7 linked regions of the Homo sapiens genome follow. The protein of the gene in region 1 interacts with the protein of each later gene in a pairwise test. Each region holds a gene or a part of one and is shown in the gene's direction. Other genes may lie near its edges.

Evidence for each region.
Region 2: the proteins of EPN2 (region 1) and SMAD1 interact in binary tests that used the Homo sapiens proteins (3 or more experiments, as listed by UniProt).
Region 3: the proteins of EPN2 (region 1) and LITAF interact in binary tests that used the Homo sapiens proteins (3 or more experiments, as listed by UniProt).
Region 4: the proteins of EPN2 (region 1) and PMEPA1 interact in binary tests that used the Homo sapiens proteins (3 or more experiments, as listed by UniProt).
Region 5: the proteins of EPN2 (region 1) and ENTREP1 interact in a two-hybrid assay, tested with the Homo sapiens proteins (one large-scale study listed by IntAct).
Region 6: the proteins of EPN2 (region 1) and PRKAA2 interact in binary tests that used the Homo sapiens proteins (3 or more experiments, as listed by UniProt).
Region 7: the proteins of EPN2 (region 1) and RNF8 interact in binary tests that used the Homo sapiens proteins (3 or more experiments, as listed by UniProt).

The regions. Positions count from the first base shown.
Region 1 is NC_000017.11:19,282,366-19,285,865, forward strand, and holds part of EPN2 (epsin-2), read left to right. Parts: intron 1-584; 5' UTR 585-754; coding exon 755-1,349; intron 1,350-3,254; coding exon 3,255-3,425; intron 3,426-3,500. UniProt on the Homo sapiens protein: Plays a role in the formation of clathrin-coated invaginations and endocytosis.
Region 2 is NC_000004.12:145,488,353-145,491,852, forward strand, and holds part of SMAD1 (mothers against decapentaplegic homolog 1), read left to right. Parts: intron 1-1,924; exon of another isoform or gene 1,925-3,500. UniProt on the Homo sapiens protein: Transcriptional modulator that plays a role in various cellular processes, including embryonic development, cell differentiation, and tissue homeostasis.
Region 3 is NC_000016.10:11,552,420-11,555,919, reverse strand, and holds part of LITAF (lipopolysaccharide-induced tumor necrosis factor-alpha factor), read left to right. Parts: intron 1-2,230; coding exon 2,231-2,387; intron 2,388-3,500.
Region 4 is NC_000020.11:57,647,896-57,651,015, reverse strand, and holds the end of PMEPA1 (protein TMEPAI), read left to right. Parts: 3' UTR 1-2,620; downstream 2,621-3,120. UniProt on the Homo sapiens protein: Functions as a negative regulator of TGF-beta signaling and thereby probably plays a role in cell proliferation, differentiation, apoptosis, motility, extracellular matrix production and immunosuppression.
Region 5 is NC_000009.12:69,380,715-69,384,214, forward strand, and holds part of ENTREP1 (endosomal transmembrane epsin interactor 1), read left to right. Parts: intron 1-1,800; coding exon of another isoform or gene 1,801-1,816; exon of another isoform or gene 1,817-2,725; intron 2,726-2,731; coding exon of another isoform or gene 2,732-2,807; intron 2,808-2,915; coding exon 2,916-3,045; intron 3,046-3,232; coding exon 3,233-3,311; intron 3,312-3,500. UniProt on the Homo sapiens protein: Functions as an activator of the E3 ubiquitin protein ligase ITCH in the ubiquitination of the CXCL12-activated CXCR4 receptor. Thereby, triggers CXCR4 endocytosis and desensitization, negatively regulating the CXCL12/CXCR4 signaling pathway.
Region 6 is NC_000001.11:56,690,314-56,693,813, forward strand, and holds part of PRKAA2 (5'-AMP-activated protein kinase catalytic subunit alpha-2), read left to right. Parts: intron 1-1,080; coding exon 1,081-1,174; intron 1,175-2,044; coding exon 2,045-2,189; intron 2,190-3,451; coding exon 3,452-3,500. UniProt on the Homo sapiens protein: Catalytic subunit of AMP-activated protein kinase (AMPK), an energy sensor protein kinase that plays a key role in regulating cellular energy metabolism.
Region 7 is NC_000006.12:37,356,983-37,360,482, forward strand, and holds part of RNF8 (E3 ubiquitin-protein ligase RNF8), read left to right. Parts: intron 1-3,463; coding exon 3,464-3,500. UniProt on the Homo sapiens protein: E3 ubiquitin-protein ligase that plays a key role in DNA damage signaling via 2 distinct roles: by mediating the 'Lys-63'-linked ubiquitination of histones H2A and H2AX and promoting the recruitment of DNA repair proteins at double-strand breaks (DSBs) sites, and by catalyzing 'Lys-48'-linked ubiquitination to remove target proteins from DNA damage sites.

The DNA.
Region 1 (3,500 bases):
ACACAGTGGACCAAAGCAGTTTTGAAGGTATTGACAGGCATTTTTGAGTTAAGATAGACCTGAAATTAGTCTCTTTCTTGTCCTCATGTGTATTTTTTTTTATTTAAATAAACTTTAAAAAAATAGAGATGGGGGTATTGCTGTTTTGACCAGGCTGGCCTCAAGTAATCCTCCCATTTCAGCTTCGCAAAGTGCTGGGATTACAGGTGTGAGCCACCATATCTGGTCTCACATGTAATTTTAAATCTGCCAAGATCAGCTTCCCCCAGTGTTTCCGATTCTTCCACAGCTGGCTTTTGCCAGGCAGTGAAAAGACAACCCATAAAATAGCCATTCCAGTGGAAGTGTTTTGAAAATAGAGCAATAGTCATGATGTTTACTTCTTTTCTCCTAAAGGCTTAAACTTGAGTGTAAGTTTTATTCATTGTTGACTGGTGATATTGATTTTATCTTGGGTTCGTCCTAAGGAGGCTGGGTATGTCCACTCAGCTCCCCAGTTTTACCCAGTACCTGCTGCTGGACCACAGTCTCCCACCCTCACAGGGGGCTTACGTCGCAGTGGAATGGGTTTTCTCTTTCTCTAGGTCATGGCTTCCAGCTTTTCGAATCTGAGGCTCCAAAGGAGGAAATGACCATTCAGGGATCTTACTCCAGCTTGATTACGGAGACTGAACCTTCATAGGGTGCGCACTTACCAAGGACAGGAAGGTTTCTCTGTTTGAAGGGCTTTAAACTTATAACAAAGAAAATAAAAATGACGACTTCGTCTATCAGACGGCAGATGAAAAACATCGTGAACAATTACTCAGAGGCAGAAATCAAAGTCCGGGAAGCCACCTCCAATGACCCGTGGGGCCCGTCCAGTTCTCTGATGACCGAGATTGCCGACCTGACCTACAACGTGGTGGCCTTCTCGGAGATCATGAGCATGGTGTGGAAGCGGCTGAATGACCATGGCAAGAACTGGCGGCATGTGTACAAGGCGCTGACCCTGCTGGACTACCTCATCAAGACAGGCTCCGAACGTGTGGCCCAGCAGTGCCGGGAGAACATCTTCGCCATCCAGACCCTGAAGGACTTCCAGTACATTGACCGAGATGGCAAGGACCAGGGCATCAATGTGCGTGAGAAGTCAAAGCAACTGGTGGCTCTCCTCAAGGACGAGGAACGGTTGAAGGCTGAGAGGGCCCAGGCTCTCAAAACCAAAGAGCGCATGGCCCAGGTTGCCACTGGCATGGGCAGCAACCAGATCACCTTTGGGCGAGGCTCCAGCCAGCCCAACCTCTCCACCAGCCACTCGGAGCAGGAGTATGGCAAGGCCGGGGGCTCCCCGGCCTCCTACCATGGCTGTGAGTAATGGAAGTGCTTCTCACCCTTTGCCAGAGCAGCAGCAATGGGTGACAGGCAGGGTGGGTGTCTCTGGGCTTAGGGAGTGGTGGCCACTGCAGAGCTCGAACCTGTCCTCAGTACCCAGCTTTTGGTGGCCCAGGCAAATTGTCCTTGGTCTGGATTGAGTTTTGGTTATAAAGGGACTTTTAGTCCCTTGGCTGCTCTGGTTCAGGGATCTCTAACGCCCTTTGCTGCTCTGGGCCTCATTCTGTACATCTGGGCAGACGGTGGGCAGAGGCAGGTCTTTTCTGCTTCCTTGTCAGAATGGGTCTGGCAGCAAAGGAGTTGTCCTGCTGCACATACAATGGGGAGTTGACTCTGGTAGCCAGGAGGAAACAAATGCTCTTTCTTGATAATCTTGTTTCTTTAATCTCATATTAAGTGTTTTTCTGCTGACTGAGCTTCAGGTCTCTTGAATGGCTCAGTATTATTCTACTTCAGCAAAAAAACTTGTACAGGTTGCTAGTGTGAACAAGGCCTCCCTGCCAAACATGCAAATGAGAGTTGCTAGTGATCTGGTTGCATGGCTGGGTCTGCATTGAGTTCTGGTTTTGCATGTTGGATTAATTTGGGTCTTTGCCTTATGGTCAGAAGAGGTTTCAGGGAACAGAGTGGAGTTCAGGGCCTGATGGAAGCTGGTCTCTGTGAGTCACATTGGCATCCTGGCTGTTCATTGGAAGTGGTCCCCCAACAGGTGTTTCTCCATTTTCACAGTGCTATTCCAGCCACAGTGTGGACCCCACACTCAGAGAGACAGGTGGCCCTAGTGGCCTTTGGGGGACAGGGTGAGGATGGAGGTGGGGATTGTAGAAATTATATCTTCTGGCTGCTAAAACAAAAGTGCAGATCCCTAGTAACACTATGTCAGCATAGCAGAAAACTTCTTTTTAAAGGAAGTTGTCTGTAGTTTGACAGACCTCAGTCAACCCTTACTTAGTCAGTGTTCTGTTACCAGACCATTTACTAACATTTCCTGCTTTTGCAGGTTTCGATTTGACATTGTACCGCCACCACTAGCATTTTGAGAAATGTGTTAAATGAGAGATTTGCATATTAAAGTCAGATTTCCTGCTTCTAGGAATTCTGAATTATTACCGAGCTTGGAGCAGGTTAACATATTCTTGTCCCATATGTAGTTGTCATTTTTCTTCTTAGTTTGAACTGTTTTGCTTAAGCAAAGGTTGTGACCTTGGTTAAACCACTTGAAAACAATTTAACCTTAATCTCCAGAAGCCTCAATGCAGGGTTAAATTGCACCAAAACAAATGAAGATTGCCCTTTAAGAAGTGAAATTGTTTTATTTCTCTCAAGGATCCTCTTACCAACCCCCAGAGAGGCTCTCTTTGGATTGAGTTGGTCCCAACCTGCCTTGACTTCCTCTGTCCCTGTGACTGTGGCTGTGGCTTTGATGCAGGCCAAGGGGAGCTGCCATTCTCTTTATGTGCTTTTCATGGTCATTATTCTCAAGAAGCCAGAGGATGCTAAGCAAGGAGCTGAAACAGCTTCATGTTCCATGAACAATTTGTGGAACTTTGCAGATGCAGGGGTTGGAACAGTGGGGATGCAGGAGCCTGGTTTGATCCACCCCTCCTCCTCATACCGAGTCCAGGGCCTGTAGCCATAGGTCCTGCTGGGCTAAATGATACTGCTGCAGTTCCAGCTGTGATGTTTTTGGTTCCCTCAGACCTTACGCTTGAGCTGCATGTTCAGGGTCAGAATGTGGTCAGTGGGCTTTTCACAGCTTCCACCGCAGTGGGCTGCGGGGTTGACCCCGAGTGGCCTTGGCCCGTACCTCCTGCAGGGGCTGCTGCGCACCCTCTAATGGCGTGTCTCTCTGTGTGTGTGTGTGTGTCCCTGCCCCACAGCGCCTGAGGCCTCGCTGTGCCCCCAGCACCGCACAGGGGCCCCGCTGGGTCAGAGTGAGGAGCTGCAGCCACTGAGCCAGCGCCACCCCTTCCTGCCGCACCTGGGGCTGGCCTCCCGCCCAAATGGCGACTGGTCCCAGCCCTGCCTCACTTGTGACCGCGCAGCCCGAGGTGGGACGGCGGTTTGCTTTTTTCCTTACTAGAAATGCTGGGCAGCTTGCTGGGGGTGTGCTTGCCATGCCAGTA
Region 2 (3,500 bases), on another chromosome or scaffold:
TGCTTTATTTGTAGTTTCCCCTTAATTGTAGGGCTGCTGTACTGTGGATATTTTGCTCTACAATCTGAGATTGTTAGGGTATAGTTACTCCAACTATTCATGTATTATCCTCTCCCTGTCTTTTTGTGTGTGTGTGTGTGTGTGTGTGTGTGGTTTCTTTGTGGTGTGCTTATGCAAAGTAGAAGTATTCCAGACCTTTATAGCTTTTTTTTCTTTTAGTTTCAAACACTTCAAGAAAAAAGGTGGGGGGGAGACTCTCTCAACGGTTATAATTAGGCATTAATTAAGCCATTATTCAGTTAACTAAATGCAAGATCTTTTGTTTGTTTAGATGGAAAAGAAACGTATCTTTTTAATGAAGGAGGGATATTAAATGGGCCCTTATTTGATCATTTTGCTGCAGTATTGTAATAAGTATATGCTTCATTTATTCCCTGAATATTTATTAGTTCTGAGGCTTAATAATTAGAGTATACACAAACATGAAAAATTAAATGCAGCAACATTATAAGAGCCGTTACAAGGTAGTATAGGAGTAAATTGTACAGACAACTCACATCAGGACCACTGTGGCCTGGAAGGACATGTGAGTTTGCATAGGCAGAAGGAAGAGGGACATTATAGACAGAGTAATGGCATGAAAAACTGGGAGATAAGCATGAGTGTTGAGTATCTGTAGAGCAGCACTGTCCAATAGAATTTCTGCAGTGATGGAAATGTTCCACATCTGTGCTAATACAGTAGCTGTAGCCACACATGGAACAGCATTTTTTAAAAAATTAATTTATGTTTCAGTAGCCACATGTGGTTATCATATCAAATAGCACAGATCCAGAGGCAGTGAGCAGCCCTGCCTGACCTCAGTGGGTGTTCCTCATGGAGCCTAGTATGGTGGTGTGGAGGAGATGCTCAGAAAGGTTGACTTCCAGTGAGAATTTTAGGGCCTTAGAGTGCCAGAATAAGGAAACATTGGGAAGTCACTGAAAGTGTTTGAACATGCAGTTTGCACTGGAGGGATAGAGCCCAGTGCCAGGAGATCAGTAAGAAAGCTATTGAGTTATGTGTGAGATGATAAATCTCTGGTAAAGGTAGACATGGAAAGAGAAGGATTTAAAAATAAATAAATAAATAAAATAAAACAAAAAACCATGAAGGCTTGGTGATTATGTGGCTATAAAGTAATGAGAAAGAGATGTCGGAGATATATCCTTAAGTTTCTAAACTTGGTGGCTGGAAAACTAATAAAGATGTTACTTAAGAATAGGGAAGAGCTGGTTGTAGAAGAAATAAAAATTGTGCAAATGATAAATTAGACTTGATGTGTTAAATTTAAGGTGCGATATCTAAGTCAAAGTATGCTACAGGCAGGTTGGAGATAAGGTTTGGGAGGACTTGAAAGCTTTACGTTAGACTCTCTGCAGTCATCTGCTGGGTATTCTGAGACAACCACAAAGAGAGAAAGAACTGGTGGATTGAATCTTCCATTGGAGCCCACGGTTAGGAATTAATAGAAGGAAGAGGCTAATTTGAAGTAGACTGCCTGAGAGGCTGTTTGACATAGACCAAAGAAGAAACTGGAAGAAAGGCATGGGGTCAGAGGAGTGGGAAAACCAGGAAGCCACTGGAAGAGAGATTCTAGAAGTAGGTTTGGAGGGGAAAATGTACAGTTCAGGGTGAAGGAGAAGAAGTCAGATAATCATGTGAATGCAATTTCAGAGAAGGCTGAATACATTAAGAAGTGAGAGAGTCTTATATTGCCTTAAGTGACTTGAATTTTAAGATAGATGAGACCTCTTCATATTTGAAGGTTGAGGGGAAGAAGTCAGTGGACAGAGAGCAATTGGAGGTGATGGAGTTAGCCATCTGGAGCACAAGTGACAAATGTTGACCGTGGTAAGGAGGGAGAGTTGTCTGAGAAAGAAACAGAATGGGGTCCGAGTGAGAAGAAAGCATGTGGCAGAGCTCCTGTGCACTTTTGCTGATTTTCCTGTATTGTTGGAGGTAAGTCCTTTCACTGGGATGGTGAGGAGGAAGATCAGCACATGGTAAGGGAAGAAGAACCACCGTAGGTAGTGTGCCAGGCAATCTATAGAGAAGTCAAATTCTAAACAATTGGGGGGAAACCTGGGGTGAAGTGTGGTGAGGCTGCTGTATAGGAGACTAGGTTAATTGTTACTTTTTGGTATCACTTTGTGGCCTGGTAGGCTTAGGGATAGCAAATGGGTTCAGAGATAAGACTCTAGAGTCAGATTGCCTGGGTGTAAGACCAAGCCCCAACACTTACTTGTTTTATAAGAAGCCTGATGAACTAAATGAATTGAGAAGCAGTAAGCAATGAGAATCTTGGTAATGAAGTAGTGAAATATCAAGTTTGGGAATTTGTAGATAGAGCATTTCCCTAACAATTCTAGATAAAGGTTTCTAAGAAAAGTATAGAAATTGAACTAACAGAAGAATCCCTGTAATGATTTTAAAGGTTAAGTTAATTAGAACTTAAAAAAATAAGTATTGTATTCTGAATTTTTCTGTGGCTTTTATTACAGCATTCATTACGGTTAAAAACATTTCTTTTTCATTAAACCAATATGTGCTTAATGCAGAAAGATTCTGCAGTGGATTCTTGTCATAGTGTTAGAAGGAAAGGGGAGTTTGATTTATGCCACTGGGGGGAGGGTTATTAATAGCCAGCCACAGAGCCCTTCAAAATGTGGCTCCAAAGGCAGAAACAATAAAGGAAACTTTTTATAGATTTGATAGCATTTATTATGTGACCAAACATACTCAAAAACAAAACCTGAAAGACAGATAAAGAGATTTGCAACAAGATATTGTTCTTTACAAGAAAGACTTATATCAATAGGAAGCACCACCCCAATAGAAAAATTGGTAGTGGACGTGAACAAGCATTTCACAAACAAATGAAATGCCAACTGCTGACGGGAAGATTCTGCGCCTGTAATCCCAGCTACTCTGGAGGCTGAGGCAAAAGGATCACTTAAACCCAGCAGTTCAAGGCTGCAGTGAGCTATGATTGTGTCACTGCACTCCAGTCTGGGCAACAGAGTGAGACTGTCTCAAGAAAAAGGAAAAAAGAAGTACAAACTACTAATGAACACACAATGTTTTGGTTATGTCCTGGATCAGACTTGATTGAAATGGGGATGATGTCTTCCTTTTTCCTGTATTTTGTTATTCTTTGTATACTAGGAAGTATCAGTCTGGGAAGACTGGGCTTTTCTCATTTAAGGAAAGGAAGCCCGAATTTCCCAGCCTCCTAGGAGAATCTGGAGTGTCAAGGAGGTACAAGATATATACAAAGTAGAGTTATAAGAGGCAGGCACCCTGCTTCCCTCCATAACATGGTTTTCGTCCAGGAGTTTCCTTATTGCAGTGTGAGGGGCTATCAGTTATACACAGTTTCTCAGTCACCTGGCGTAGATGATGAACCTTGAAGACACCAGTGCTTCCTAGAGCATATTGAAATAGGCCCCTTTCTCTCC
Region 3 (3,500 bases), on another chromosome or scaffold:
TTCACATAACCTCCTTGTGCCTCAGCTTCCCCATTTGTAAAATAGGTTTCATCAAGTACCTATTTATAAATATCAGTGAGTTGTTAACATGAGAGGAAGTTGTGTGTGCCAAATACAGAGTACTCGTTTGATAAAAGTGAACTCTTATTGTTGTGTTCAAGTTATTTTGAGCTGGAAGAGGATGAGATAATGACTTTAGATTCTTAGACCATCCTGTGATCAATAAATAGTTTCTTTTTCTTTTTCTTTTTTTTTTTTTTTGAGACAGGGTCTCACCATGTTGCCCAGGTTGGAGTGCAGTGGTGCAGTCATGGCTCGCTATAGCCTGGACCTCCTGGGCTCAAGTGATCCTCCCACTTCAGTCTCTGGAATAGCTGAGACTACAGGCATACAGCACCACACCTGGCTAATTTTTAAATTTTTGTGTAAATCGGGTCTCACTGTTTTTCCAGGCTGATCTTTAACTCCTGAGCTCAAACGATCTTCCCACCTCCCTTGGCCTCCCAAAGTGTTAGAATTATCAGCATGAGTCACAGAGCCTGGTCCAAATAACTTATTCTTGAACCCCAAAAACACTTAATAAAATGTATGAACAGGGTGTGGTGGCTTGCGCCTGTAATCCTAGCTACTGAGGAGGCTGAGGCAGGAGGATCACCTGAGGCCAGGAGTTCCAAACCAGCCTGAGTGACATAGTGAGACATTGTCTCTATGAAAATAAAATTAGCTGAGTGTGATGGCTTGTACCTGTAGTCCCAGCTACTTGGGAGGCTGAGGTGGGAGGATTGCTTAAGCCCAGGAGGTTGAGGCTGCAGTGAGCTATGATTGTACCCCTGCACTCCAGCCTGGGCAACACAACAAGACCTTGTCCCCCCTGCCAAAAAAAAATTACACGTAAGTGCTAAAGTATGATTTAATACTACTTTTCTGGAAGGAGGGTCTTTCTATGAGTATTACTAAGTTCAGTTAACTCTAGGCAGTAATTTCCCCCTAATTCATTTGTTATATAAATGACATTCTAACGTAAAAAGGAACAGAAGGAAGTTGCTTTAACAAAAATATGAGCTTAACAACTGAAGTGCTTGATGATTTTCATCACCCTGGGTTCTCTCTTTTTTTTTTTTTTTTTTTTTTTGAGGTAGAGTCTTGTTCTGTTGCCCAGGCTGGAGTGCAGTGGCATAATCTCGGCTCACTGCAACCTCTGCCTCCCAAGTTCAAGCAATTCTCCTGCCTCAGCCTCCCAAGTAGCTGGGACTACAGGCACGTGCCATCATGCCCGGCTAATTTTTGTCTTTAGAAACAGGGTTTCACCATGTTGGCCAGGCTGGTCTTGAACTCCTGACCTCTGGTGATCCACGCACCTCGGCCTCCCAAAGCCAAGGGATTTGCTGGGATTACAGGTGTGAGCCACCGTGCCCGGCCTGGATTCTCTTCTGATTCTTGAGAATGTTCGAACATGTTTTCACATAGCTTTTTCTTCCTAGCATTATTTTATATTTTCATTTCTTGTATCAACACAGTTCACTAGCTTGTTGTCTTACAGAGTTGGCCTGCGTTTCCTGGCTTGGTAAACTCTACCCTTATCATTGGCTGTCAGAGTTTATCAAAGGGTTTGTGTAAAGAGAGTGGATTATTTATCAAGAGCTGCTAGGCACAGTGTGAGGCTGGTTAAAATTTATTTATTTGTTTTTGGGACTGAGCGTCGCTCTGTTGTCCAGGCTGGAGAGCAGTGGCGCAATCATGATTCACTGCATCCTCAATCTCTCAGACTCAACTGATCCTCCCACCTCAGCCTCCTGAGTAGCTGGGACTACAGGCGTGTACTCCCACGCTGGGCTAATTTTTATATTTTTTTGTAGAGATGAGGTCTTGTCATGTTGCCTAGGCTGATCTCAAACTCCTAGGCTCAAGCAGTCCTCCCACCTCGGCCTCCCAAAGTGTTGGGATTACAGGCATGAGCTACCGCGCCCGGTCCTCCTTTCTTTTTGAGGCTGAATCATATTCTGGTGGATGGATAAACTTCGCTGTGTTAGTTTATTGGTCCGTCGATGGACACTGGTGTTCCTTCCCCTTTTGGCTCTCATAGATAGCCAGACGATGAACGCATGCTATGAACACAAATGTACAAATATAATATTTGCTGGCATCCCTGCGTTCCTCTCTTTGTCCTGTAGTGAATGCTATTGGCCTTGTTTCCTGAGCAACCTGTGTTTGTCCCTCTCCCTTTCATCAGTTACCGTGCAGACGGTCTACGTGCAGCACCCCATCACCTTTTTGGACCGCCCTATCCAAATGTGTTGTCCTTCCTGCAACAAGATGATCGTGAGTCAGCTGTCCTATAACGCCGGTGCTCTGACCTGGCTGTCCTGCGGGAGCCTGTGCCTGCTGGGGTGAGTCTGCCTCCCACTTGGCCCCAAGCCATCCTGCCCTTCTCTCTGGGTGCTGGCGGGGGTGGGTTCTCAACTGCACCATGCTTGACATTCAGGGCCAGACATTTGTGTTGTTTTTTTTTGAGATGGAATCTGGTTCTGTCGCCCAGGCTGGAGTACAGTGGGGCGATCTCGGCTCACTGTAACCCCCACTGCTCAGGTTCAAACGATTCTCCTGCCTTAGCGTCCCGTGTAGCTGGGATTATAGGGGTGCACAACCACGCCCAGCTTATTTTTAGTAGAGCTGGCATTTCACCATCTTGGCCAGGCTGGTCTCAAACTCCTGACCTCAGGTGATCTGCCCACCTTGGCCTCCCAAACTGCTGGGGTTACAGGTGTGAGCCACTGTGCCTGGCCTAAGGCATTTCTTTCTTTTTTTGTGATGGATTCTCACTCTGTTGCCCAGGCTGGAGTGCAGTAGCACGATCCCGGCTCACTGCAACCTCCGCCTCCCAGGTTCAAGCTATTCTCCTGCCTCAGCCTCCTGAGTAGCTGGGATTACAGGTGTGCACCGTCAGGCCCGGCTAATATTTTGTACTTTTAGTAGAGATAGGGTCTCACCATGTTGGCCAGGCTGGTCTCGAACTCCTGACCTCAGGTGGTCCACCCGCCTCAGCCTCCCAAAGTGCTGGGATTACAGGTGTGGGCCATCATGCCTGGCCCAAGACATTTCTTTATTGTAGGGGGTGTCCTGTGCATTGTAGGATATTGAATAGCATCCCTGGCCCCCACCCGCTTAATGCTAGGAGCACCACGCTCCCCAGTGTTCTGAACAAAAATGCCCCCTGGGAGGCCAAGTCATCCCTGCTGCTCTTAAGCGTATCCGTCCCCAGAAATTGGTCTTCCGTCTTTTCTTCTTGCTTATCTGCTGAAACCACGCCCTGCATGTAGGGACAAGCTTCACAGCTGCTTCCAGCTGTGTACAGGGCAATATCCTCAGGGATTCCTTTTTCTTCTAGAATTTCATGACCTAAATAATAATGTTTTGCTCGAGCCCGAGGGAAGCTTTAAAGAATCTGTACATTAAAATTCTTCATAGGAATTGCTTCAAAACTTCTTATCCTTTTATGACCC
Region 4 (3,120 bases), on another chromosome or scaffold:
GGGTGGAGCATGGTGCCCCTCACAAGCCGCAGCGGCTGGTGCCCGGGCTACCAGGGACATGCCAGAGGGCTCGATGACTTGTCTCTGCAGGGCGCTTTGGTGGTTGTTCAGCTGGCTAAAGGTTCACCGGTGAAGGCAGGTGCGGTAACTGCCGCACTGGACCCTAGGAAGCCCCAGGTATTCGCAATCTGACCTCCTCCTGTCTGTTTCCCTTCACGGATCAATTCTCACTTAAGAGGCCAATAAACAACCCAACATGAAAAGGTGACAAGCCTGGGTTTCTCCCAGGATAGGTGAAAGGGTTAAAATGAGTAAAGCAGTTGAGCAAACACCAACCCGAGCTTCGGGCGCAGAATTCTTCACCTTCTCTTCCCCTTTCCATCTCCTTTCCCCGCGGAAACAACGCTTCCCTTCTGGTGTGTCTGTTGATCTGTGTTTTCATTTACATCTCTCTTAGACTCCGCTCTTGTTCTCCAGGTTTTCACCAGATAGATTTGGGGTTGGCGGGACCTGCTGGTGACGTGCAGGTGAAGGACAGGAAGGGGCATGTGAGCGTAAATAGAGGTGACCAGAGGAGAGCATGAGGGGTGGGGCTTTGGGACCCACCGGGGCCAGTGGCTGGAGCTTGACGTCTTTCCTCCCCATGGGGGTGGGAGGGCCCCCAGCTGGAAGAGCAGACTCCCAGCTGCTACCCCCTCCCTTCCCATGGGAGTGGCTTTCCATTTTGGGCAGAATGCTGACTAGTAGACTAACATAAAAGATATAAAAGGCAATAACTATTGTTTGTGAGCAACTTTTTTATAACTTCCAAAACAAAAACCTGAGCACAGTTTTGAAGTTCTAGCCACTCGAGCTCATGCATGTGAAACGTGTGCTTTACGAAGGTGGCAGCTGACAGACGTGGGCTCTGCATGCCGCCAGCCTAGTAGAAAGTTCTCGTTCATTGGCAACAGCAGAACCTGCCTCTCCGTGAAGTCGTCAGCCTAAAATTTGTTTCTCTCTTGAAGAGGATTCTTTGAAAAGGTCCTGCAGAGAAATCAGTACAGGTTATCCCGAAAGGTACAAGGACGCACTTGTAAAGATGATTAAAACGTATCTTTCCTTTATGTGACGCGTCTCTAGTGCCTTACTGAAGAAGCAGTGACACTCCCGTCGCTCGGTGAGGACGTTCCCGGACAGTGCCTCACTCACCTGGGACTGGTATCCCCTCCCAGGGTCCACCAAGGGCTCCTGCTTTTCAGACACCCCATCATCCTCGCGCGTCCTCACCCTGTCTCTACCAGGGAGGTGCCTAGCTTGGTGAGGTTACTCCTGCTCCTCCAACCTTTTTTTGCCAAGGTTTGTACACGACTCCCATCTAGGCTGAAAACCTAGAAGTGGACCTTGTGTGTGTGCATGGTGTCAGCCCAAAGCCAGGCTGAGACAGTCCTCATATCCTCTTGAGCCAAACTGTTTGGGTCTCGTTGCTTCATGGTATGGTCTGGATTTGTGGGAATGGCTTTGCGTGAGAAAGGGGAGGAGAGTGGTTGCTGCCCTCAGCCGGCTTGAGGACAGAGCCTGTCCCTCTCATGACAACTCAGTGTTGAAGCCCAGTGTCCTCAGCTTCATGTCCAGTGGATGGCAGAAGTTCATGGGGTAGTGGCCTCTCAAAGGCTGGGCGCATCCCAAGACAGCCAGCAGGTTGTCTCTGGAAACGACCAGAGTTAAGCTCTCGGCTTCTCTGCTGAGGGTGCACCCTTTCCTCTAGATGGTAGTTGTCACGTTATCTTTGAAAACTCTTGGACTGCTCCTGAGGAGGCCCTCTTTTCCAGTAGGAAGTTAGATGGGGGTTCTCAGAAGTGGCTGATTGGAAGGGGACAAGCTTCGTTTCAGGGGTCTGCCGTTCCATCCTGGTTCAGAGAAGGCCGAGCGTGGCTTTCTCTAGCCTTGTCACTGTCTCCCTGCCTGTCAATCACCACCTTTCCTCCAGAGGAGGAAAATTATCTCCCCTGCAAAGCCCGGTTCTACACAGATTTCACAAATTGTGCTAAGAACCGTCCGTGTTCTCAGAAAGCCCAGTGTTTTTGCAAAGAATGAAAAGGGACCCCATATGTAGCAAAAATCAGGGCTGGGGGAGAGCCGGGTTCATTCCCTGTCCTCATTGGTCGTCCCTATGAATTGTACGTTTCAGAGAAATTTTTTTTCCTATGTGCAACACGAAGCTTCCAGAACCATAAAATATCCCGTCGATAAGGAAAGAAAATGTCGTTGTTGTTGTTTTTCTGGAAACTGCTTGAAATCTTGCTGTACTATAGAGCTCAGAAGGACACAGCCCGTCCTCCCCTGCCTGCCTGATTCCATGGCTGTTGTGCTGATTCCAATGCTTTCACGTTGGTTCCTGGCGTGGGAACTGCTCTCCTTTGCAGCCCCATTTCCCAAGCTCTGTTCAAGTTAAACTTATGTAAGCTTTCCGTGGCATGCGGGGCGCGCACCCACGTCCCCGCTGCGTAAGACTCTGTATTTGGATGCCAATCCACAGGCCTGAAGAAACTGCTTGTTGTGTATCAGTAATCATTAGTGGCAATGATGACATTCTGAAAAGCTGCAATACTTATACAATAAATTTTACAATTCTTTGGAATGAGGCTTTTTCACTTCTTTGGCCAAATGTAGCTCTTCTCACTTCCCACCCCTTTCTACAATAACCCCGGGTGCATTCAAGGGAGGCGAAGCGATCCCTCGGAGCTGCTGGGCAACCTTGAACAGTTCGTTCAAACTTTCTGTTTTATTAGTTCAGGCAGCATTCAGGGAGCCCAGTGAAAACACTAGCTCAGGCAGGTTCTGGTAAAGGGGGTGGTCGTTGTTAAACAATTTTGCAAAACACTGCATACTTTTCCTCCGTCGGGAAATCATTATTCACCATAGCATGACGAAAGCTCTGATAAGGTCTGCAAGGAAAAAAGAAACTGTCTTAGGTAGGGTTCTTCCAGAAGTAACCCCAAGACGTGGCCTTGTGTGTAAGGGATTAGGACGTTTTAAGGATGTGCTCCCAGGGGGCTTCCGCTAAGGGAGTCAGGGAAGAGGATCAAGGAGGGGGAGAACCTGAGCAAGGGAGACACTTGTGGACAGAGTTCCAGCCTC
Region 5 (3,500 bases), on another chromosome or scaffold:
ATCAAGGAGTCTCCAACCTATTTCTTGAACATGGATCTGGTTTTTACTCTGGGGATGTAGCCTATTAAAGAAAACCGAAGACTGAGGGGGTCTTGGGCATTGACGTGGTTGACATGGGCATTTCTTAAAGCAGAGCCCCCCCAAACCCCACTCATTTCCTTTCCTAAGAATTTCCAAACCCAAACTCAAGTGGAGCCGGGCGATGCTTGGGGTTGAGTCAGTGCTCAGCTGTAGAGGGTTGGGGGAGGGCCCTTCCCTCTCTCCCCCTCTGCAGGCAGCAACCCTGTACCCAGTCACAGGGTACAGTTTTCCAGTACAGGAGGAGGAGGATTCTCTGGTCAATGGTGTATCTGCTGCTGCATTCCACCTGAGTGAGTCTTCAGGGCCTATTTGTAGCCTGAAAGCAGAACATGCTTTGAATTTCCATCTTCAGTGCTCCTGAGCCTGCACCAGTGAAGTCTTCCTGGGGACTTGGTGATGGACTTGAAAGAGCCAGGCTCTAGAGTCTCTGCAGAGGGTGACCCAGGATGAGTCTCTCACCATTTCTGAGCCTCAGTTTCCTCATTCACCTTCGTTGTCATGTGGCTGCAGGGAGTATTGTTATGAGATAATGGACATAAGAAGCTTTCTGAAAAGAAGCAAGACCCTCATTCTTTAATAAAAATTTGATCAACTTTCCCAGTAGAACAGGGCTTTAATTTCAATCACCATTATCCATTTCCTTTTGCAGTGGTGCTCAATCTTGGTGGTGCATTAGAATCCCCTAGGAGCACTGACAACGGGCAGATTCCTGGGTCCCACGATAGGCAATGAGAGCAGAATTTCTAAAAGTGAGGCCTGGGCCATCCAGAGTTTCAGAACCTCCCAAGGTGATTCTACCTACCTTGCCAGGACTGAGAGCCATGGGGATCTGGGGAAAGAAACAGTAGTTAAAAACAAAAACAAAAACAAAAACAAAAAACCAACCTGCCAGTATGTAGCAGATCCATTTCCCTCCACAGACCCTTGTTAACACAAATGAGGTAAAATAAGAAATTGCTTAATAGGAAAGGAACTTTCCTTCTATGTCAACTCTAGCAGCATCTTCCTTCAAAGTGAGGCTTTTATGGGCATTATCAAAACTACCATAGAAGCTGTTTATTCTGTGGTCAGCTTGGATAAAGTATGCCCCCTCTTTCCCCAGTTGTTCTTCGGGAAGAAATTCTACAATAGTTTAGGATCTAAAACAGAGCCTGTTACTCTGACCTCTTGGCCCTCAGCAAGCCCTCTCCTCTCTCTGGACACGTAACAAACAGGCAACGGGGATAGAAACTTTCCAGGCAGGGGACACAGCAGCGAAGAAATACAGATGTCATTTGTTGGAGAGAAAAAGTCAAGTGTTTATAAGTGCTAGGAAGGTGGCTCATGGGGGCTATGCTCATTAAAGATGGAAGGCTGGCCCTCTGGAGAGGATAGAAGTCCATAGGTCTCATTGATGAAAGCAAATTGCACTGTTCATTTGCCAGGAAAGAATCTTCACTCTTAGATCCAGGAAGGGTCTGGCTTCTCAGAGTCACTCAGCATTTATAGTTCTTAAACAGTTTCAGTGGAATGGGGGAGTTGGAATGAAGCCCGTTGGCAAGTCCTGCTGTAAGGGGGAGAATCTCTCTTTCATAATAACTTTGCCAGGACCCCTCCCCCACGAAGGGACCCTTTGTGCTAGTGCCTCGCTTCCAACTGGAGGCTTGATGTGTTGCGTGCTGAACCTGCAAACATCTCCACTTCAGGCATTAGCTCATCACCTTCTGCCTTCCCCTTCAGGTCAAGCAAGGGATGAGAGCCTCGCTTACGAACAGACAAATATAGAGGAAAACGAGGGAGTGCTTTCTCATCTTTTCATTCAGGTTGCAGAGTCTCATTCTTCTCAGTCCCAGAATTCCAGAAGTTTTATTGTTAGGAAGAAAGAAGATGATATCCTTTTCAAATTTTTTCTTCCACCAATCACATTTTGTATATAGCCACAAAGAATAAAATGAAACAACTATAAATTCAGAGAACACTGCTCCCCAAAAGGCAGTGCCTGCAAGCAACTAGCCCCAGAATCTGTTTTCTCATCCATTTCTTTTAGCTTTTTAAAATCCTTTTTTTGTATTTCAAGAACAGACAAACTTTTGTTCTCTTTTTTTTTCTTTCATTCTTTGATACTCCATAGCAGAATGCAGGTGTTCTGGCTTTTATATGTATTTTATAAATTATTTTAAAACTTAGGTTCATCATTATCTAGATCATCTGGTACCTTGGGCAGAGATTTGTGGAATTTTCTGTCAACGTTGGTGAAAAATCTTGTGGAGGATTTTGCTATTATTTTGAATTTTGCTGTTGACGGTTCTTTACCCACAGGACAAAAACAAGAGTCATGTAGAATGTAAGACATAATTGAATTTTCCTGAGTCCTTAGCTGTTTTTTAAATAGAGGTGAAACTCATATAAAATGAAATTAACCAAAGTATATGATTCAGTAGCATTTAGTGCATTCACATTATTTCGTAACCATCATCTTTATCTAGTTCCAAAGCATTTTCAGTACTTCAGAGAGACCCCATACCCATCAAACAGTCACTCCCCATTCCCTTCTCCCCCATCCCCTGGCAGCCACTAATCTGCTCTGTGTCTCTATGGATTGTTTGCTTTTTGACTGATGGGTTTAAAAGCAATGATGGGGTTGCATTTTATACACTGTCATTTGCTTAAGGAACTCTGGCCACTTCGTCGGAGAGCAGCTTCTATTATTCTCCCTCTCCTGGCCAAGGAGACCATGGTATGGAGAGGTGAGTGGTTTTCCCCACAGTTTAGAGCAAAGCCAGTATCCGGGCATCACTGCAGTCACGTGGCCAGTCTGTAGAACGTGCTTTCTGACGCCAAGTCGCTTTTCCTAGGATGGTTGGTCCTGATGTTATTCCCCTGCCACACATCTACGGAGCTCGAATCAAAGGTGTGGAAGTGTTCTGTCCTCTGGATCCCCCGCCGCCATATGAAGCTGTGGTGAGCCAGATGGACCAGGAGCAGGTACTGTCTGTCCTGAATCTCTCTAAGTACATTGACTGCAAGTGGGAAAGACAGCACCGCCCCACCCCCTGCCCCCAGAGAACAGCAGGGAGACCGGGCCCCACACATCTTTTTAAGGAGTTCACTGGGTCTAATGAGGGGTGAGTTAAACATCAACAAAATAACCCTGTTTTTTGCTGTGATGCAGGGATCTTCATTCCAAATGTCAGAAGGATCAGAAGCTGCTGTGATCCCATTGGATCTGGGCTGCACACAAGTGACTCAAGGTAATAGATACATTGTGACATGATTCAGTAGATTAAAACATGATAAAATAGGCTGGGCAAGGTGGCTTATCTCTGTAATCCCAGCACTTTGGGAGGCCGAGGTGGGAGGATCACATGAGGCCAGGAGTTTGAGGCCAGCCTGGACAACATGGAGAGAGACCCTATTTCTACAAACGGAAAAAAAAAATG
Region 6 (3,500 bases), on another chromosome or scaffold:
CCACCATGCCCAGCTAATTTTTTGTATTTTTAGTAGAGACGGGGTTTCACCGTGTTTGGTTTAGCCAGGATGGTCTCAATCTCCTGACCTTGTGATCTGTCCGCCTCGGCCTCCCAAAGTGCTGGGATTACAGGCGTGAGCCACCACGCCCGGCCTATCACATCTTAATTAAAATAATTAACAACATTATCCACCACTAATCAGCATGTAGACTTTCCTGATTGTTTCATAAATGGTTTTTAAAGTTGGTTTATTTGAATCAGAATCAAAATAAGTCTATACAGCATAATTGGTCAATATGTCTCTTAAGTTACTTTTAACGTATAGTTTATCCTTTCCCTTTTTTTCTTGCATTTTATTTGTTGAGGAAATGGTCATTTTTCACTTCCTGGATTTTGCTGAATGTATCCCTGTAGTATCATGTTACGTGTCCAGGAAAATATATGTATGTTTTACAGAAATGAGGTCTTGCTATGTTGCCCAGGCTGGTAAAATACTGACTTTAGAAGATATATTCCACTTAATTGCCAACATGAAGCCTATGCTTTTCAAAATCGGTTCCATAAAATCATGTTGAAGATCAGTTATTTTCTTTTCTTAGCACTTTCATGTATGTTCTGTTTTAGTTTGTTTTGCTGTCAATTCCCCAAAACATTGCCCTGAGCTCAAGTGATTCTCCCACCTTGGCCTTCCAAAGTGCTGGGATTACAGGCATGAGCCATAGTGTCTGGCCCAAGTATATTTTCTGTTTATCTTTAAATATGTGATACCTCATCTCCTTTTACTGTAAACAAATTTTTGTTTATATGGAAAAATTAGTTGTTGAAGAGGGAAAGATTTCAAAAATTATGTAAACTTGAAAGGGAGGATCTAAAGGAACGGCCGTGAGCCTCAAGAAATAGAATAATTTTGTAATGGTCCGTGTTTATTGCTCTGTGATTATTTTGATAACATGTAATTTGTTGCCATCTTAAAGTATTATAAAACATTGAAATATAAAATTGTAGCAAGAGTAGATATACCAGTTTGATTTTGGTTAAAGTAACATACTTTGTTAACTTTTTTTAATTAACAAAAAAGATACCAGGTGATCAGCACTCCAACAGATTTTTTTATGGTAATGGAATATGTGTCTGGAGGTGAATTATTTGACTACATCTGTAAGCATGGACGGGTGAGTAACATACTATCTGGTACACTAAATCTCTAAACTAATAAAAAGGAAAGTATTGGGACATAGAACAATGCAAAGATATCTTCAAGGTTGAAGTTGCTTTTATGGTAGTGCTCAACTAAACATGTAGAGTGTTAGATAAATTTTCTTTCTTAAAAAGCATTCCTTTTGAAATACTGATTTTAGAAAATATGTTTCACTTAATTGCCAACATGATGCGTATGCTTTTTAAAATCTGTTCCATAAAATCATGTTGAAGATCAGTTATTTCCTTTTCTTAGCACTTTCACATATGTTCTGTTTTAGTTTGTTTTACTGTCAATTCCCCAAAACATTGTGCACATTTAATAATATTAATTGAAATTTAAATATTTCTGCTTAGCGACAAAGACAAACTTGTCTTTTGACATGTTGAGCTTTGACAAGCTTTTGGTTGGTTTATTTTGTCTGATTTGTTGAGAATTCCAACATAATTCTAGCTTGCTTAATTATATTTAGCCTAATTATGAAATTAAAACTCTTGTCAAATAGATGTCTCAGATTTTTTTTTTTTTTTTTTTTTTGAGACAGACTCTTGCTCTGTTGCCCAGGCTGGAGCGCAGTGGCATGATCTCAGCTCACTGCAACCTCTGCCTCCTGGTACAAGCAATTCTCGTGTCCCACTCTCCTGAGTAGCTGGAACTACAGGTGCATGTCACCATGCCCGGCTAATTTTTGTATTTTTAGTAGAGATGGAGTTTCACCTTATTGGTCAGGCTGGTCTCAAACTCCTGACCTCAGGTAATCCACCTGCCTTGGCTGGGATTACAGGCATGAGCCACTGTGCCCAGCCCCAGATATTCTTAATGCAGTTTCTTTTGTGCTTGATAGGTTGAAGAGATGGAAGCCAGGCGGCTCTTTCAGCAGATTCTGTCTGCTGTGGATTACTGTCATAGGCATATGGTTGTTCATCGAGACCTGAAACCAGAGAATGTCCTGTTGGATGCACACATGAATGCCAAGATAGCCGATTTCGGTATGTAACTCCAGGGTTGTTCAGAAAGGTACTAGCTACCTTTTAAAGCATAACAACTCATTGAACTAAGAACTTTACTTTTCAACCTTGTACGTTCTGTACCATGAAAAGGAATTAGCTGAAATCTCCTCAGTAGCTTTTTTTTTTCATTTAATTAAATTTTCATTAATTTTCATTAAATACACTTTAAAAATGCAGATACCTCTAGAGAAGTTAGAAGGTTGTCATCAAGATAAATCCATTCAATCTGCATTTTCTCCTAAGGAAATGATGCATAACTGTTTTTTTGTTTTTTTTTTTTTTGAAGAGAGGGGAGGAGTCCCAGACTTCTTTGAAAATCTCATGAAAGTATGGGCACTTTCCCTGATGAATGCATATAAACCAAGGTACCTGAAAATATGCATGCAGTTGGAAAAAAGCCCTTCTGAACTGATCCACAAAGAGGTCCTTAGGTGTAACGTCTAATAACTTGATTAGAGAACAGTTTTTGTCAGGGGTAAAAGGTACATAAAATGTGATTTTTATACTCCAAACACTTTCTGGGATAAACATACGTGGAAAGGATGCCTTAATAGGGTATTTGAGAAAAAGACTAGGAAGTGAGAGATTAAAGAGAAAGAGATAGAAAGGTACAGGCTATTGTTGCCTATTTGTGGTCTATACCTTGTCTTTAATCTAAAAACCTAGAAACTACTTTCTCTATTTCTCTTCCTTCTCTAAATCATGAAACTTATTTATTACTATAGCTCAGCTAGATTTTTGGTTCAATAGATTATTTTTTCCATGTTGAATTAAATATTTCTAAATTAAAAACTTTTGGAACATAATCTCTTTATGAGGTGGGGCCCATCTGGTTTCTAATTACAGAATTTAAAGAGGCTTTTGAAAGCACAGGGCAAAAAAGTAGTAGTCTCTATTTTATTCTTTCAACTATGGAAATAGGTAAATAATATTTTGATGTTTTCATGTTTGGGAAAGTTAATATGCTTCAGAATAACCTCATTTGTGATGGGAATCAACATTTTTATTTAGAAAGGAAATTTAGTTTCACTCATATATGTGATGTGCTTTAGCTTTTTGTTACAGTGTAAGCACTCTGAGACGGTCTCTTTCCAGTTAAATGCTTTCCACTGCTTTTTTTTAATAACTTAAAAAAAAATGATATATGGAGGATCCAGGACTTGAAATTTTGCTCATATTTATATGACTTTATCTACTTTTAAAAATATCTAGCACCAAGTAAACATTACTTTTATTTTTAGGATTATCTAATATGATGTCAGATGGTGAATTTCTGAGAACTAGTTGCGG
Region 7 (3,500 bases), on another chromosome or scaffold:
CCCGCCTGGGCTTCCCAAAGTGCTGGAATTACAGGTGTGAGCCACCACACCTGGCCAGATTTACTTGTTATTTGAGAAACAGTAGGAATTGTGCCCAGGAGGAAAGAGATAGTCTTAGTGAAGGTGGGCAAAGACAGGATGATCTTTTAGATCAATAATGTGTGTAAGCTCAAAGGCTTGCAAAACTATTGTAAATGAAAACAACCCCTCACATATGGGTCGTCAGTCAGTTCCCACGGGAAATTCAGTGTTATGTTGAGTGGTCCTGAGATTTCCAGGTAACCTCACTGCACTCTTTAACTACAGTATAGGTGAAATATCAGTAGTACCAAGGTAAATTCTAAGACCAGGCAGTGCAGGGAAGGATGTAAAAGAATGATTCCTTTTTCTGGGTTCAGAGTCTGTTGGAGGCAATGTCAGGAAAAGGCACTCTTCTACTGTTTTGGTACTGTTTTCCCCTGGCTACTCACAATGGCAGTCTGGCTGTCTCCCCTCAAGTATTAGCATGTAATATGAGATGCTTCCTCTCTTAGAGATAAAGCTACCTAAATAGAAATTTTACTGAATATGGACGACAGATAAATCCCTAGCCATTCCATTTTTAACAGATATGTGTATTCAGAGGAACTTCTATAATTAATATAATTCTGGCAGAGTGTGAAAGAACTGAAAAACTTTGTGCTCAGTGTTGGTGGAGTGATCACCACAACATTTTAAAGAGAAACAAGTGAGACTGTATGAGTTCCAACTGCTGCTCCATATTTTCCAATGGTAATACAGTCTCTAACTTCTGACCTAAAAACACCCACCCTAAAATCTTGAGGACTCATATGCAAGACCTCTTTATTCTTTCATTCATTCTCAAATACTTAACTGAACACTATGCCAGGTATAGAAACACAGTGGTAAACAAGACAGATAAAGTCCCTGCTTATCTAATTTATATTCTATTACGGGGACAGAGGGGAAAAGTAAAATAAACAAGATAATTTTGGTCTGTGATAAGTACTTCCTAATAACTGAAGAAATATGATGGGAAGCAGACAACCAACTTTAGACAGAGGTAATCAGAGTAGGCTTATGAGTAGCTGGAACATGAAAGATAAGGAGCCTGTGCAAGATCTGAGAGAAGAGTGTTCTTAGCAGAGGGGCTAAGTGAAAAGACCCTCAGGTAGGCTGGCACTTCGGGGAGATGGGCTTAAGGAACAACAACAACAAAAAAGTTTGAGGGGCTGGAGCAGCTAGTGTTGGCACTATGGTATGAGTTAAGACTAAAGAGTAGAAGGGCTCAGGACATTCAGGGTCTTATAGGCCATGGAAGGAAGTTTGAATGATTGGACAGTTTTAAGGAAAGAAGGAAAATGACCTGATTTAAAATTTTTACATTTCTATTCCAGTTACTATTATAAAGCTTATGGGGGCTAGAGTGAGAACAGAAACAGTAGGAGGCCAGGTGGTTTGGACTAAGGCTGTGGCTGCAGAGATAGGAATGAACAGACTTAGGACATATTTGAATTATAGCCCATATAATTTACCAGTGATTTCAATGTGGGGATGAGGGACAGAGATGAATCAAAGATGGCTTCTGGGTTATGGGTTGAGTAGTTGGTTGGATAGTATTGTGAATACTGAGATAAGAGTTTGTGGGGAGGAATAGATTAGGTCAGTGAGTCGTGGTGGTCTTTGAGGGACTGAGGAGGACAGGCATTCTGAAAGATTTTAAAGAGAAGAGAAGAGGGCAGTTTTAGCTAACTTTGGTTTAAAGTTCCCAGTTAAGGTTGTGATATGGGACATTAAAGAGGTCGTTTGTGCACTAAGAAGAATATGCAGGGAGCCGGGCGCGGTGGCTCACACCTGTAATCCCAGCACTGTGGGAGGCTGAGGCAGGCAGATCACTTGAGATCAGGAGTTCGAGACCAGCCTGACCAACATGGTGAAACCCCGTCTCTACTAAAAATACAAAAATTAGTTGGGTGTGGTGGTGCGTGCCTGTAATCCCAGCTACGTGGAAGCTGAGGCAGGAGAATTGCTTGAACCCGGGAGGCAGAGGTTGCAGTGAGCTAAGATCGTGCCACTGCACTCCAGCCTGGGTGATAAAGCAAGACTCTCTCAAAAAAACAAAAAAAAATTAACAAACAAAAAAGAATAAGGGAATTCTGTGATCTGGAACTCAGAAGAATTTCATTTCCTTCCTTCACAGGGTTGTTATGAACTAGACTGGTCCAACAGGAAAGTATGATAGATGTGAACTGGGGCTTCTTTTCAACCTTTTCCGGAAGCTCTCAAGCTGTTCTTGTGGATAAGACAGAGAATATGTACTCCAATGCAAAGACTTTTGGTTGAATTATAACTGGCTGAAGGTATATCCAGATGGTGTGGGTTAATGTTTACTAGGTTTTCCTGAAAACTTTGCCTTTGGCTGCATCCCATTCTGTGTCTTGAACGAAGGTATAGAAGGCATCATCTCATAAATTTGGTGGAAGAGATATTAAGTATGTCTGATCTGATGGCAGATTAAAAATTCAGAAAGGTCTTGACAAATTGGTTTGATAGGCTGAACTAGCAAGATGAAATTTAATAGGAATCAATCTAAGGTCCTGCGCTTGAATCCAAGGTTTTCCATCCAGTCAAGTATAGAGCAGAAGAGACAGGACTTAGGATAGCATTTCTTGGAGGAGGGGGAGACCAAGAAATTTAATCATTCCTAAGTTCGAGGATACACTGGCAGTGTACTAGATCTGCTATGAAAGCTAATGCAATTTATATGCTCCAGTGATAATATCTAGAACTGGGAAAGTAACACTTGCGTTTGACTGTGTAATAGAAATTAAGTTTATTTTTCTTAATATGCCATCCAGGAATAAAGATAAACCAGCAGTCCCTTCACAGACTCATTAGAATGGCAAAGGCTCAAGCCCATCCCCTGGGAGTTAAGTTGAAGTAACTGGGAATACAGAACCAGGAAAAGAGAAAACTCAGTGTTCACTTTATATCTGTGCCATTGAAAGGGGATTGGAGATTTCCCGATGGTGCCCAGGGCAAAGCCAGGGCCAATGGATGGAATTTACAAGGAGAAAAATGCCAAGTCAGAGACATTTTAAAAATTGGAGGGCCTGCCTTATGTAAAGTTACTGACAGTATTTATGCGTTGATGGGATGTGTAGAAAGAATTCCTCTATCTCATAGTCATTGAACCAGATGACCTTTCAAGATCTTGGCAACCCTGAGATACATGGATAACTCTTTTTCAGCTTTCTCTTGTTGTCACAACCGTTTGCCTTTTTCTACTTGGTGGTTCTCAAGACAGCTGAAGAGGAGATAGCTGATGCACTGTTTTGGTTCCACAGGTGTCTGGTTTCTTAAGTCAGGACCTGCATATGCTGCTGGTTGATGAGATTTGTAAAGGACCTCCCTTTTCAGCACAATGACTGATGGTATTTCTTGCATTGTTGTTGTCTCCCAGGTGACTGTAGGACGAGGATTTGGTGTCACATACCAAC